Linked DNA regions of Homo sapiens: region 1 is linked to region 2. Evidence: fine-mapped expression QTL. Tissue or cell type: whole blood. Region 2 holds a variant in brackets; the other region holds the start of a gene. All regions are shown on one strand. Distances are from middle to middle.

What was found. PIP is the estimated chance that this variant, and not a neighbour inherited with it, causes the effect.
Region 1: LINC02561 starts here. The variant in region 2 is fine-mapped to the expression of LINC02561 in whole blood (INTERVAL, PIP above 0.99).

Annotation. Positions count from the first base shown.
Region 1 is chr10:5,267,721-5,275,538 of GRCh38, forward strand. LINC02561 (long intergenic non-protein coding RNA 2561) reads right to left here and starts at 3,516. Exons shown (of 2, transcript NR_149060.1): 1 at 3,478-3,516. It also overlaps the pseudogene AKR1C7P. RefSeq lists an enhancer at 3,819-5,018.
Region 2 is chr10:5,206,177-5,213,994 of GRCh38, forward strand. It overlaps AKR1C4 (aldo-keto reductase family 1 member C4), which reads left to right. Exons shown (of 9, transcript NM_001818.5): 5 at 99-221; 6 at 6,440-6,549; 7 at 6,818-6,983. It also overlaps the pseudogene ARL4AP3. Among named protein-coding and RNA genes, the nearest start is that of AKR1C4, 13 kb to the left of the region's middle. RefSeq lists an enhancer at 3,789-3,958. The variant G/A (reference allele first, on the strand shown) is at 3,661.

The DNA of each region.
Region 1 (7,818 bases), 62 kb after region 2:
CCAGCTACTTGGGAGGCTGAGGCAGGAGAAGGGCATGAGCCTGGGAGGCGGAGCTTGTAGTGAGCCAAGATTGTGCCACTGCACACCAGCCTGGGCAACAGAGCAAGACTCTGTCTCAAAAAAAAAAAAAAATTTAAAATTCAAATGTGTACAAATAACTATAAATCTATGTTAACATGTACACAATGTATGAGGTTGTAATTAGTGACATCAGTAATGTGAAGTTGAGAGAAACACAGATGTGGAAAAGGGGAATTTATGTACAGAATTAAATGTGTATTGATTTCAAAGGAGATTTTATAACTCTAGGATGTTTTATGTCATTTTCATGGTAACCACAAAGAAAACAATTATAGAATATACACAAGTGAAAATGAGAGGGAAATCCAAGTGTCCCTAAAAATCAATCAGTGACACACACAAAAAAATGTTAGTAATGGAGGATATGAAGAACAAAATGCTATAGACATACAGGAAAAGAAAAATATTAAAATGCAAAATTAAGTTGCTGTCACTAATTATAGTTATCTGTCATTTAATGATAAGAATACATTCTGAGAAATGCATTTTTAGGCAATTCAAGCATCATGTGAACACCATAGAGTGAACTTACATGAATCTAAATGGTATATTCTACTATAGGCTTTCTGGTCTAGACCATTGCCTGTAGGCTATAAACAGTAGAGTGCAGCATGTTCCTCTACTGAATACTATAAGGCAATTGTAACACAATGGTATTTGTGTACATAAACATATAAAAGGAGCAGTAATAGGTTTTGTAATCTTATAAATCCACTGTTGTATATATGGTCAATCATTGACCAAAATGTTGTTATGCAGCACATGAATATACTTTAAATGTAAATGGATTAAACCCCCACACCAAAAGGCAGATCAATTTGCAAAATGGATTAAAAGAAACAAGATCCAACTATATACTCAGCACTAGAAACTCAGTTTGCATCTATAGATGTGACTAGTATGAAAGTGAAAGACAGAAACAGATATTCTATAAAAACAGTGACAAAAAAGAGCTGTGGTGGCTATACTAGGACCAGGAAAAATAAAATTTAGTCAAAAACTGTGATAAGATATAGACAACATATTATATACAAGCATATCTCAGAGATATTGCAAGTTCAATTCTAGACTACTGCAATGCAGCAAATATGACAATAAAATGAGTCACACAAATATTTAGATTTCCCAGTACATATAAAGTTATGTTTACACTATACTGTCATATATTTAGTGTGCAATAGCATTACAGCTAAAGAAAAAAATATGCATGCATTTGTTAAAAATATTTTATTTCTGAGAAATGCCAATAGTCATCTGAACCTTCAGCAGGTCATAATCTTGTTGATAGTGGAGGTTTTAGATATGATGTCGATGCCTCCTGACTGACCAGGGTGGTGGTTACTAACGGGTGAGGTGGCTGTGGTCATTTATTTAAAATAAAATAAAATAAAATAAAGTTTGCTGCATTGATTGAGTCTTTCATGTGAGATTTCCTCTTTCATTTACACACACACACACACACACACACACACACACACACTATATGTTTTGTTTCTTGGGACAACCCTGACTAATATAGATTTTGGTATCTGGAGCAGTTCTAGAGGAATAGAATTTTGAGTTTCCTGAATTGGTTTTGGGGTTTCTGGCATTGTCAGTCTAATCAGATTAGACTTGAAAATGCGAAGGACTTTATTTCCAATAATGAAGAGAGCACTGATAGTCCATGATATGAAGTATTTATAGAGTGCACAAAACATCTGCATTGATACTCTACTTAACAACTTAAAAGAGGCAAAAAAAATAGTGACTCTGTATGTGATACTTTCAAACATTTGTGGAAAACTAAGAATAGAATGATGTTGGTTAGTTGCACCTCATATTGCTGGAAAGAGGAAGAAAAAAAAGGGTGAGCTCAGGAATTCAAAATCCTGGATTAAGCACACATGACCTAAGAGCTTCTAGGTGTGCGCTGAGTGAGAATCCTATGTCTTACAGCCACAGGGCTGAAATTGCTGAAAATCAAATGCAAGTGACACCAAAAGCACAGTCAACAGAGGAAAACATAGATGAATGAGACTTCATAAATTAAAACATTTTTGCATCAAAAGAGACTACTAAGCATCAGAAAGCAACCTATAGAATGGGATAAAAATATTTAGTTGCAAGTCATATTTCTGATGAAGCTGAATACCATGAAATTTCCTGGCAGATGCCCAGCACTCTCAACTTCATCCCAAGCTGCCTTTACTCAGCTGCCAAGACACTTCTTGGTGTCTTCAGACTTCTGTGTGAAGTTTCTCCAGAGTTAAACCCTGCATGTACCCCTAACTTGATGTAAAATTTGGATTATGATATCTTCTGATTGTACACAGATCAGACTTCCTGTTCTATCATGATTTCCCTTCTCTCCTGAATTCAGAATATTTTCTGACAGTCTTTGGATTTATACTTTGATCTAATCCTGGTGACTCCCAACTAGACTAATTGGAAATGCTACAACTGGTGAAAATTTTGTTTCCAATGTCCTTGTTATAGGAACAGAACTATGTTGCTTCATTCGCATCACGCCAGGCAATTCAGTATATTCTCTCAACGATATTCAAAAGTAAACTCTGTTTCTCTTCTCTGTGTGTGTGTGTGGATTGGTTTGGTTTTATGAGAAGGAGTCGTCCAGGCTGGAGTGCAGTGGTGCCATCATAGCTTACGTAGTCTCAGCCACCTGGATTCAGGTGATCCTTCCACCTCAGCCTCCCTATTAGCTGGAACCACAGGCGCATGCCACCTCGCCCGACTAATTATTTTATTATTTGTAGAGACAACGTCTGTGGCCCAGGCTGGATGTGTGTTTTAAGACTAAAATCTTTTAGACACCACCAAAATAAAACAACTCTGAAGTGCCTGTGACACAGGATAATCCCTAGGATCATGTGAAGGTGGACAAAGTACCCTGGTTACTTCCCTCTCTCTCCACATCCGTTTCCTCCCTTCTGTATTTTGGGGATACTATCCACTCCTCTTTCGTGCTACTGTGCTCCAGGAGAAATAAAAACATGGGACAGAATAAATCTTTCTGGGTTCACACTAACAGCCTCTCAGGGTTGGAGGGGAGCTTGAAGGCCAAATTAAACCAAGTAATTGGGGAAAGTATCAGACAGCAACAGGAATAAAATGTGAAGTCCATGGATAAACACCTTTATTATGCAAGGAGTTTATCCTAATCTATAAGAAAATGTCTGGTTCTCAAAAACAGAATTCAACAGACTTTTCCTCTGGCAAACCTGCATTTCAAACATCACTGGGAATTCATCCAGTTGTCTTCAATGAGAATCATTTCAACATGTCCTGCAGCAAATAACTCCACTGTTGGTGCTTTGATAGTTAGAAAACTCCTCTATATGGTGCAAATAATTTTCAATCCACAAATTCAGATGAGTAAGAAGAAAGAAAAGTTACCTGTTTTCTTGAAATTAAACTTCTTTAGGCTGTTGCAACCTTGATCCTCCTTGTCAAATGCCAGCTGAGGATCTGATGGCCTCACAAACGGACCCAAGGTTTTGGGTGGTCCCTCCGGGTGTCCTGCTCTGTTTCTGTGGAGACACTCATGGCTCCCAGAGCTTAGCCCCATTCAGGCCCAGCTGCTTTGCCTTCCGTGAACATCACTCCAGCTCCAGAGGGAAAAGGGATGGTTTCCACCTTCAGATATCAAAGTCTAAATAGGGATATGGGAGAGCAACAAATGAAAAAGGCTTAACATAATGGCCTGTAAAAGTAAAGAAGGATGGTCATTGGGTGGTAACTGTGCTAGGAGACAAAACCCCACCATCCAGACATTTTTCTTCCTCTCCAGGCTATGGAGATTTTCTCTCAGACAGTGTCTGGAAGATCCCACAAAATGACACAAAAATATTGGCATTCACAACAGAAACCAATCAAGGACTCTTGCTCAACTGCACTGAAAGTTAGAGTAACTTATCCTATGTGGTCACAAACTTTGGAAGTTGTCTCTTAACACAGCTGTGCTTGTCATCTCTAAAGCACTCTGCTTGGTCCTCCCAGACCAAGATAAACTCTAACCTCACAGAGAGCGGCTTAAAGTTGACAGTAGGCTCAGTACATCTGAGCAAGGCAACCCTGTACTCACTGTCCAATAAACTTAGTATTTCTTCTGGCTAACTCAAGGGAAATTATAGTGCTGATAATAGCAATGACACCAACGCTACTAGCTAAGATTTTGAGTTTCTATTCTGTATCAGGCAAGACTATCAGGGAATCCTCTCAAATACCCTACAAAGTAGATTTAACTTGTAACTTATTTTACAGAAAAGGGAACAAAAAGGGTTACTTACTTGTCCAAGGTGATTTGAAGAAGAAACTGTGTCCTGAATATGAGCTCTCAGTGAGTGAAGATTCCTAAAGACTTTTTTAGATCCATGCCTTTTGTGCATTATTTGTTATTTTAATATCACTCAATACTATAGCCGACCCCTAGAATCTACTGGAGCCATGCTGTCAGGATGACTCAGCAGTTTTCACACATTCTGACCACTCTTGTATAGGTACAAAATGCAGGGTGCATTGTAAAGAGAAAATTATTAACTTGGATGGTTGTTTGGATTAGAGTACAGGCAGGTGCAAAAAAAGTAATTCAAATTGGTTTAAAATCCACAAAAATGTGTTAGTCCCATAACAAGAAGTCCAGAGGGAGGGTAAACTCTGGGTGTCATCCATGAGAGTGCAGAATTTCTCTCATCTTCTCCTTTTTCTTCTTCTGTGTATTGATGTCGTCCTCAGGCTGGGTGGAGACTCCACAGCAATTTCACACCTCACCTTGCAATGGGACAATATCCCCTTGAAGAAGAGAAGCAACCTCTCTTCAAAGGCTCCTTCTTAGAAGTGAGAGAAACTCTCCTAGAAGTACCCAGCACAGTGCTTCTTATGTGGCGTTGGCTAAGGCTGGGTCACAACTCTTTATCCACAGTGACTCCTATGCCAACCACAATGAAATTAGCATGGCTGACCTAAACAAATTATTTAAAGTAAAACTGATGTTGGAAAGGCAATCATCTTGACTGCTGAAACCATAGTGAGAAAGTGCTTTTCTTTAAATTAGATGTTTCCAAACTTACTTGTGTAGAATAAGTGGAGTCTGATCAATTTCAATTTAGTATATTATTTAGCCTAATTTTCATACGTAAACTTCTATGGGTATTGAAAGAATGCAAAGAGGAAAGAAGAGAGACCTAATGACAACTCTTGATGAATCAAGAACTTGATAAATCAAGGTATAGTAGAAACTGCAGAGTTAAGAGACTTCATTAATATAAGATGTGTCCAACTGAAGGTTTCATAGATGAAGCACGTTTAAGTAGTAAACATGGGATCCATTGCCTGAAGTATAATCTAGACATCAGTAGAAATTCTGAAGAGTTGAGAATGTTGGCAAACTGAAAAGCTTGAGTTTTCCATATGAACAACAAAAGACAATGTCAACAGATCCTGAGAATAAATTTTAGAATAAAATAATGAAGGGCATGTATCCAGAAGGAGGAAATACAATAGGGTCAAGATTACATCAGCTTTAAAGAAACAGGTATTTATTCATGTGGTTTTCCTCTTGATATCTGAGATAAAAGTCTAGAGTTTCAGGATCCAGTGGCTGGACATAGAATTCTTTCTATTACAAAAATTAGAAAACTAAAGTTTAGTTGCTCTAAATTTACTTACAAAACTAGTGTAGTAGGCTCAGTAATGGCCCCCAAAGACATACATGCCCTTATCTCTGGAACCTGAAAATATGTTACCTTAATGGCAAAAAGGGCTTTCTTTTTTATAATTCGTTCTTTTTAATTGAGTGTCATTAAAGAGTACTTTCTAAGCAGTTAAATGCACCAGGAGCTGTATTAACATAGGGCCACAGAGATGAGTAAGAGGAGACATTCACAGTCTCATGAGGCAGATCACAGATTATACTTAAGGCCTGTGAGTATAGAAAGGTTGCTTTCACATTTTTCTCATTGAAAATGTCTTTTCTTGGAAGCCTGGTATGGTTTTACAAAAAGAAGGGGGACCTTTCAGATGTGTTTTGGAGACTGAGTATTTTCCTAACTAAAATGATATTTCGCCCTGTTTCTAAACTCCCCTCCAAACTTGGCTCTGTTTGATTAGTCATCTTTCTCCTCAACCCTGAGATCCTGCCACAGTTGATCCAATGGAACGTCATGTTTGTGAATAAACTAAAGTGAAGTTATGTTGGGTTCCTTAGAGGTGGGCTTCAGATGGACGAAGATGACACTGGAGTAAGAGTCTTGCCTCGAAGATCCGGAGAAATTCCAGAGGATCTTAACTTGGTGGAGGCCACTGGGGACACCTCAGTCACTAGCACTGAGGGTCTATTAATTTCATAATTCATTTGTCATTCAGCTTAGTGAGATTATATAGCTGAGGAAATGGGAGTTGTGAAGGTAAAGAAAGCCAAGGAAGACAAAAATTTGGAAGAAATAGTTGGTGTCTCGGAAAAGGAATGCCACAGTAAGGAGAAATGTCACTGGACACTTAGGGGAGGCCATGGAAGCAGGGCCCACTGTGACTTCCCTAGGACATATGCACATTTGCTTTCATGGACCAATGCTCTATACAAATATTAAAATTAAGTCTTACATTGCCTTGGTATAGACATGAAGATAGACGAGGCTGGATTCATTATTACATATTCATCATTGTTGTATTCTCTTTTTCTTCTGACTTTAAAATAAATTAAAGCTAGAACATTATCATGGGCTCCTATAAGTATGATGGGTCATAGACACCGTGCCTTCTATTCTAATAGGCAGTGGCCCTGCGTGCAGGACCGGGCACAGGTAGTAAGGGCACTAAAGAAGTGCATTCATGGCGGGGCACAGTGGCTCATGCCTGTAATTCCAGCACTTTGGGAGGCCGAGGTGGGCAGATCACGAGGTCAGGAGTTCGAGACCAGACTGGCCAACATGGTGAAACCCTGTCTCTACTAAAAATACAAAAATTAGCTGGGCGTGGTGGCAAACGCCTATAATCCCAGCTGCTCAGGAGGCTGAGGCAGGAGAATTGCTTGAACCCGGGAGGCAGAGGTTGCGGTGAGCCGAGATCGTGTCACTGCACTCCAGCCTAGGCAATAGAGCAAGACTTTGTCTCAGAAAAAAAAAAAAAAAAATTGAAGAAGTGCATTCACAATGGTGCAGATGTCAACAGTTTCACTTACTGACTCACATTCCTGTTGGGTCACAGATTGAGCCACATGAGGACTATAGGGAAGCTCCTGTTTCATACCTATTCCTGAAATCTGGCCTGCCTTCCTGATTTAGGGAAGATGTATTCCTCTGTTTGCCTGCATATTACAGAAAACAGCCTGTGAAAGAATCTGCAAGCATGACTTACAATTGTAACTTAGCATATCGGAAATTTCTGTTGAGGCCATCAGTGGCTTTCATGTCCTCTGGAGTCAACTCAAAGTCAAAAACCTGAAAGGAAGAAAACACTCACATTAACCTTTCCCCAGGACAGCAGCTTCTTCCTGGGAATACAAGGCTTTCCGGGGGCAGAGGCAAGGATGGCAGTATGTAAAGTTTCTGTCCTCATTGGCCTCTAGGTGAGACCTCTTCCCCCTGAGTTCTGCTACTTTTCCATCCCACCTCCCTCCTGCTCTGCTCCACTTCTCAAAAGAAAGACAACTTATCAATCTAAGACATTTCTAGAGAATTGCTTGAGACAGAAAAAATAAATTCTTTATACTAAACAAAGGCAAATCTGGACAAAATACCT
Region 2 (7,818 bases):
CATATCTTAACAGTTGTTGCTTTAACAGTTCTGTCTTGCATTTATCATAATCTGCAGCCAACTGCACAAATAATTCCTCACAACCCCTTTCTCCCCAGGTCATGGAGAAGTGTAAGGATGCAGGATTGGCCAAGTCCATCGGGGTGTCAAACTTCAACTGCAGGCAGCTGGAGATGATCCTCAACAAGCCAGGACTCAAGTACAAGCCTGTCTGCAACCAGGTGAGCACCCTCAGCCTCCTCTCCTTTCTCTTCTCAATGTCCATCTTCCTGTCCTACTGCCTGGCTTCCATTTGTTTTGTTCCACTTACATTTGTGAAACAGAAGATTCTAGAAAGCAAAACATCTGTCTAGAAGAAAACGGAAGACCCTTAATTGCACCTCTTCTTGGAGAAGTCTTAATGAAAATGGTACAGAGACCTTCATGCTAAATTGTGTGTACTATTTTTGGGGGAGGTGAATTTCATCAAGGAGGACTGAAATGGTTAATCAGAACTCAGGGAGAAGGTGGACTTATCTCTAAGGTATGAAAGACCACCAGAGAGTGGATTGGTAAAGATGATTTGGAGTAGAATGTATATAATTATAGAGGCCATAAAAACATGGGATGAGCAATAAATCAGGAGACAGTGAGAATAAGAGAAGATCGGTACTACGGGTTTAAATAGGGTTTAGATGTCTGAATGCTTTTTCTTGTCATCTCTGTTTTCATAGTTCTTGAGCAGGTACTAAAAATTAACTGGAAACAATGAAAGTCATCCAGGTTAGGGAGAGGAAGTTACCCGTTTATGAGAGTTGCTTGAGAGATAAGCTGAAAGGATGTGGCGTGCTACCCCCACCCCTGCCTCGTGTAGAAAAGCCTGCCAATGTTGCCTCATTTAGACCCAGACTCCAAAACGGGAGTCTTATAGCTGGGCCACCTAGGAAGAGAGGTTCTAAAGCATAAAAAAGAAAGCATTTCATTTTGGGACATTTATTTGCAGCTGGAAATGGGGGAATGGGCTAACTGGCTAAACTACTATCTTGTCCATCCTGCCTTCACTTCAGTCCTTCCACATTGTTATTTGGTGTTTGAACTGTGCTAGAAGAACTGTTTTATACAGGCTGCTATTCAATAAATTTGTAAATACCATACCCACACCAAAGGATTTAACACTGAAAAGATTAAGGTAATTTTGGAAAATTCTAAAAGTCACTTTTCACTCCTGAGATGTAGGTGGTCAGAAGAAATGAGGAACACTGTAGAAGCCATATGCAAGATGCACAGATGGCATTGTGTTTGTTGTGGACTGTTGATGTTAACAGGATGGAAGAAGTCAAAACTGAACTTTATAAAATAGGGTATAAGAAAATAAAGATGTCCCTGTACTTACAGGTGCTAAGAAACTAGACTTGAAGAACTTGTCTCTCTCAGAAATTGAGAAATTGTTAGCAATGGTTGAACTAAGCTCATCAACTCCTTGGCATTTGCAGCCTACCTGTGCAATCATAGGACATGAAATAAAGGAAGGACTTGAGAAACTCCATGATGTGATAATGAAGAGAAAAATATTGCAGTAATATAAAAAGATGAATATGATACCTTTTCTATATATGTAGAATAGATTTTCTCTGGTCTGATTTTGACAAATGCAAGACTGTCTACAGCCTAGTTTTCCTGTATGCCCTCCTGGGTGCTATCAAAGCTTCATTTCATTGAACAATCAGATGCCCAACTCTGTGGCTTTGTGGAAGATGAGTAAATGCAGTAATGCTTGAAATGGTCTCTTCTCCCTAGCCCACAAATATTTTGGTACTATCATTTTGGGAAGTCAAGCAAGTATAGTAAATTAACCAGAACACAATTGTGGAAATTTGATGCAAAGTTAGTGAAATAAAACTTTAAAGAGTGAAAAAAAGGAAAGTTAACTATTTATGGAGATAACTAGTTATGGTGGATGAAATCAACACTGAGGAAAATTTAGCAGAACATTGAGCTGACCTTTTGACTGTCCACATCTTATTCTGATGCACTGCTTTGCTTTCTGTCATCAAATCAACTGTTTAGAAGCATTTATTCTGCGTATGGTTCTGTTCTCTTACTCTTTTACTACTTAGAGTCAATGAGTACAGGTCTACAGTTGAAACATGTATTTAAAATTTATGTATTTGGTAATATAATACAAAATCATGATTTTCAATTAAAAAGGAATTAATGTGGTTTTAATATTAGTTTTACTCAATTATTATTATGACAACTTTCAAATTTTAGAGAAATTTGAAGGGATAATACAGGACATCTACATGTTATCATCTATTTCCAAAATTGTTGACACTTTGCCAACCTGGCAAGTATATAGGCATATATGAGTATATCTGCATCAATACAGGTAGTATTTGTTGAATCTCTTCAAAATATATTCCAATGATCACAATTCACCTCTACAGACCTTTCAAAGCATGGCATAGGAATGAAGATATTCTCCCAGTAACAGTGCAATTATTATATCTAAGGAAATAACAATAATGCCCTCATATCATTGATTATCCAGTCAGTATTCATATTTCCCATTGTTTTATTGAAAGATCTCTTATACCTCTATTTTAACCATAAATAGAAGATGAAAAAATTTAAAGATACCATAAGATATTAAGTACCTGAAATTATACCTAATAAAAGATGTGTATGACCTCTAAGGAGAGAATTATAAAACAATGAAGAATAAATAAAAGATGTATCATGAAAACAAAAACAAAAAAAAAACATCCAATTGTGACTTTCAGTTTGTTGTACTTTGGTCCGTTAACTTGTTGTTCCAAGTTTTTAAAATTTAAGTTTGTGTAGATTAGAAGTTATACTTGAATGCTTTATATCATAGAAGTTAAACATTTTTGGTGAGAAACTGCCTCTACATTGCTGTATCCCTGAAATTATACCACAGTAGGCAGCATGAAATGACAGATTGTCCCACAATTAGTGATGCTAATTTTGATCACTTGGTTAAACAAGTGGTAACCAGATCTAATTTCCAGAGACATGTGTTCTCCCCTTTGTAATTACTGGTAATCTGCTGGGTGAAATAAGAGGGAAAGTTATATTACACAGCAAATTTTCACATGATGATTGAGTATACATCAATGATGTTTTAAATTTTTGTATTGTATTATTGTATTTGTTCTTTCCTTGGGGCTTTAAAGTAATTACTTTCAATTTTAACTACAAGTTTTACTATTCTTTACGTTTTATTATAAAAAAATTTTTTTCACAAAGTCAAGAAAAGAAACAATTACTGCTCTCAGATATGCCAAAAGCTTAACTCCTTCCCTTTAATTATTCATTTCCTAGAAAAAAAATTACTGTAATAATCACTATATTAGTCCATTTTCATGCTACTGATAAAGACACATCCAAGACTGGGACTTATAGTTCCAATATGGCTGAGGAGGTCTCACAATCATGGCAGAAGGCAAGGAGGAACAAGTCACATCTTACATAGATGATGGCAGGCAAAGAAAGAGCTTGTGCAGGAAATCTCCTCCTTATAAAACCATCAGATCTCATGAGACTTATTCACTATCTCAAGGACATCATGGGAAATATCTGCCCCCATGATTTAATTATCTCCCACCAGGTCCCTCCCACAACACATGGGAATTATGGGAGCTAAAAGATGACATTTGG[G/A]TGGGGACACATAGCCAAACCATATCATGCCACCCCTGGCCCCTCCCAAATCTCATGTCCTCACAATTCAAAACCAATCATGCATTCCCAATAGTCTTCCAAAGTCTTAACTCATTTCAGCATTAGATCAAAAGTCCACAGTCCAAAGTCTCATCTGAGACAAGGCAAGTCCCTTCCACCTATAAGCCTGTAAACTCAAAAGCAAGTTAGTTACTTCCAGGATACAATGGCGGTACAGGCATTGGGCAAATACAGCTGTTTCATGTGGGAGAAATGGGCCAAAACAAAGGGGCTACATGACCCATGCAAGTCTGAAATCCAGCAGGGCAAATTTTAAAGCTTCAAAATGATCTCCTTTGACTCCATGTTTCACATCCAGGAGTCAATGGAACTCCATTTACATCCATGCTGATGTAAGAGGTGGTTCCTATGTTCTTGGGCAGCTCCACCACTGTGGCTTTGCAGGGTACAGCCTCCCTTCTGGCTGCTTTCATGGGCTGGCATTGAGTGTCTGCAGCTTTTCCAGGTGCACAGTGCAAGCTGTCAGTGGATCTACCATTCTAGGGTCTGGAGGATGGTGGCCCTTTTCTCAGAGCTCCACTAGGTGGTGCCCCAGCAGGGACTGTGTGGGGGCTCTGACCCCAGAGCACTGCCCTAGCAGAAGTTCACCATGAGAGTGCATGCCTAGTGGTAAACTTCTGCCTGGACATTCAGGCGTTTCTATACATCCTCTAAAATCTGAAATCTAGGTGGAGGTTCCCAAACCTCAATTTTTTTTTTTTTTTTTGAGATGGAGTCTCACTCTGTCACCCAGGCCCAGGCTGGAGTGCAATGGCGCTATCTCAGCTCACTGCAACCTCCGCCTCCCAGGTTCAAGTGATTATCCTGCCTCAGCCTCCAGAGTAGCTGGGATTACAGGCACGTGCCACCACACCTGGCTAATTTTTGCATCTTTAGTAGAGACAGGGTTTCACCATGTTGGTCAGGCTGGTCTCAAACTCCTGACTTTGTGATCTGCCTGCCTCAGCCTCCCAAAGTGCTGGGATTACAGGCGTGAGCCACCACGACCAGCCCCATACCTCAATTCTTAACTTCTGTGCACACATAGGCTCACTACCACATAGAAGCTGCCAAGGCTTGGGACTTGCACCCTGTGCAGCCATGGCCTGAGCTGTACCTTGGCCCCTTTTAGTCACGGCAGGAGTGATTGAGATGCAGGGCACCAAGTCCCTAGACTGCACACAGAATGGAGACCCTGGGCCCAGCCCATGAAACCATTTTTTCCTCCTAGACCTCCACCTCCCTCTGGGCCTGTGATGAGAAGGGCTGACACAAAGGTCTCTGACATGCCTTGGAGACATTTTCCCCATTGTCTTGGTGATTAACATTTGGCTCCTTGTTACTTATGCAAATTTCTGCAGCTGGCTTGAATTTCTTCTCAGAAAATGGGTTTTTAATTTTTACTGCATCATCAGACTGCAAGTTTTCTGAACGTTTATGCTGTTTGCCTTTTAAAACTGGATGCTTTTAACAGCACCCAAGTCACTGCTTGAATGCTTTGCTTAGAAATTTCTTTGACCAGATATCCTAAATCATCTCAGGTCCAAAGTTCCACACATCTCTAGGGCAGGGACAAAATGTCAATTTCTGCTAAAACATAACAAGAGTCACCTTTGCTCCAGTTCCCAACAAGTTCCTCATCTCCATCTGAGACCACCTCAGCCTGGTTACTATCAGTATTTTTGTCAAAGACATTCAACAAGTCTCTAGGAAGTTCCGGACCTTCTTATACTTTTCTGTCTTCTCCTGAGCCCTCCAAACTGTCAGAACCTCTACATATTACCTAGTTCCAATGTCACTTCATTTTCAGGTATCTATCTTTCAACAATGCCCCACTCTACCATATTAGTCCATTTTCATGCTGCTGATAAAGACATACTCAAGAGTGGGGAAAAAGGGGAGTTTAATGGACTTACAGCTTCACATGGCTGGGGACACCTCACAATCATGGCAGAAGGCAAAGAGGAGCAAGTCATGTCTTACATGGACAGCAGCAGGCAAAGAGACAGCTTGTGCAGGGAAACCCATTTTTAAAATCATTAGATCTTGAGAGACTTATTCACTATCATGAGAACAACACAGGAAAGACCCATTCCCATGATTCAATTATCTCCCCTGGGCCCCTCCTACAGCATGTGGGAATTATGAGAGCTACAAAATGAGATTTGGGTGGGGACACACAGCCAAAACATATGAATCACCATTGGTGAAGGCAAATACTTTTGATCACTCTGTCTTTTAACCACTCAACACTATGAAGACATGGATTGTTTTGCTATAATTTGTAATTCATTTTATTCATTGTTGGTTTTTGATGCTCAAATCTATGCAAATGTTACTGGGATTCCTATAAAACTACTTTTCTCTTTTAAACCTGCCCTTATGAGTCTTTAAAGAAATTCTTACATTCTGGCACAATTTGATGTTCAAAGCTCAGAATCTTAACCTATCCCAAGTCTAGAATTGGCCATGTGCACTTCTAGTGGTCAAAGGTTGTTAGAAACTGGCTCTGGTTCATAGAGTTGCTAATGCTCAGAAATAACATTTCTATATATACTTTTAGACCAGTAATATAAACTGTATTTTTATAAAATGATTGTTACTTGACAGTAATATTCTGTTCAAATTTAATGTTATACTTTATTCAGCTTATTTTAATCTTTATATTAACATATCTGTTTTGAATTATCTGATGCTTTTCTCTCTTGATCATCTAAAGGTAGAATGTCATCCTTACCTCAACCAGAGCAAACTGCTGGATTTCTGCAAGTCAAAAGACATTGTTCTGGTTGCCCACAGTGCTCTGGGAACCCAACGACATAAACTATGGTAATAAGAGCATCAGGAAGTTTACCTAAAATGCCATTTTGATGAAAAATTTTAGTTATAGCATACTCAGTCTCCTAGAGTTCATTCTCAATGGGTCAGGGTAAGGGGATAATTTGCATTTCTTATGAGATACCAGGTGATGCTGCTGCTGTTCAGGGACCTCACTTGAGAGGCTCTGGTGCAGAATGAACACCTTAGTCTGTTTAGGGAGCCTCCTACCAAACTGAATCCAGCCTCAAGACTTCAGCATTTCTGGCTTTCCTTCCAGGGTGGACCCAAACTCCCCAGTTCTTTTGGAGGACCCAGTTCTTTGTGCCTTAGCAAAGAAACACAAACAAACCCCAGCCCTGATTGCCCTGCGCTACCAGCTGCAGCGTGGGGTTGTGGTCCTGGCCAAGAGCTACAATGAGCAGCGGATCAGAGAGAACATCCAGGTGAGGAGTTGGGTGGGCATCAGGGCTCCTGCACAGTGTCCTTCACACGTGTGCTTCTTGTAAGGTTCTCAGGACACCCTTGGACTAAGTCCACTTCCTGGGCATTTCCTATGCACAAATGCTTTGTGTGCATAAGTGTTTTCTACTCTACCACAGGAGGGGCAGCATGGGTGGAGAGAATCAGGATGGGACCAAAACCAGGAATTTTGGTTTCACAACATAAAGTTGGCAACTTAACTCTATCCCTCTGCTAGGGACATCACCTTTTCTTCATTTTCTGAAGTGAGGAGTTGGGTTAGGTGTTCTCTAATCTTCAAAAATCATTGCAGATTTTTCATGTCCTTGTTTACTCAGTATAAATTTCATATATTTATTCTCTTAGAATTATTTGTTGAGTGCCTGTTGAAATCTTTGGGTATTTTATTAGGTTGCATGTCTTTTTCTATGTGTAGAAGATCATAATTATACTGAGTAAACTTATTAAAGAAAACCTCTCAACATAGAGGTTTAATACAAAACCATTTATTTAACTGACAATTCCATGGTTTGAAGTTTAGCCTAAAGCTCCACCTGAACTCAGTCTCGTCCTGTTTCTGGCTGGGCTTTCTCACGTGTGTGCAGGGCAATGAGGCAGCTCTACAGAATTAATCCAGAATCCATATTCTGGATATTCTTTAACAGCTTCAAATGTATTGTTGAAATAGCCTCTCCCAAAATGTACCCGTATTTTGATTCCCTTTATGGTGGTTTTAATAAGCAAAAGTTTCTACTCTTAATGTAGTCAAATTCTTTATGACATTTTCTCGTGGTTGCTAATATCATGACTTTTTCTATA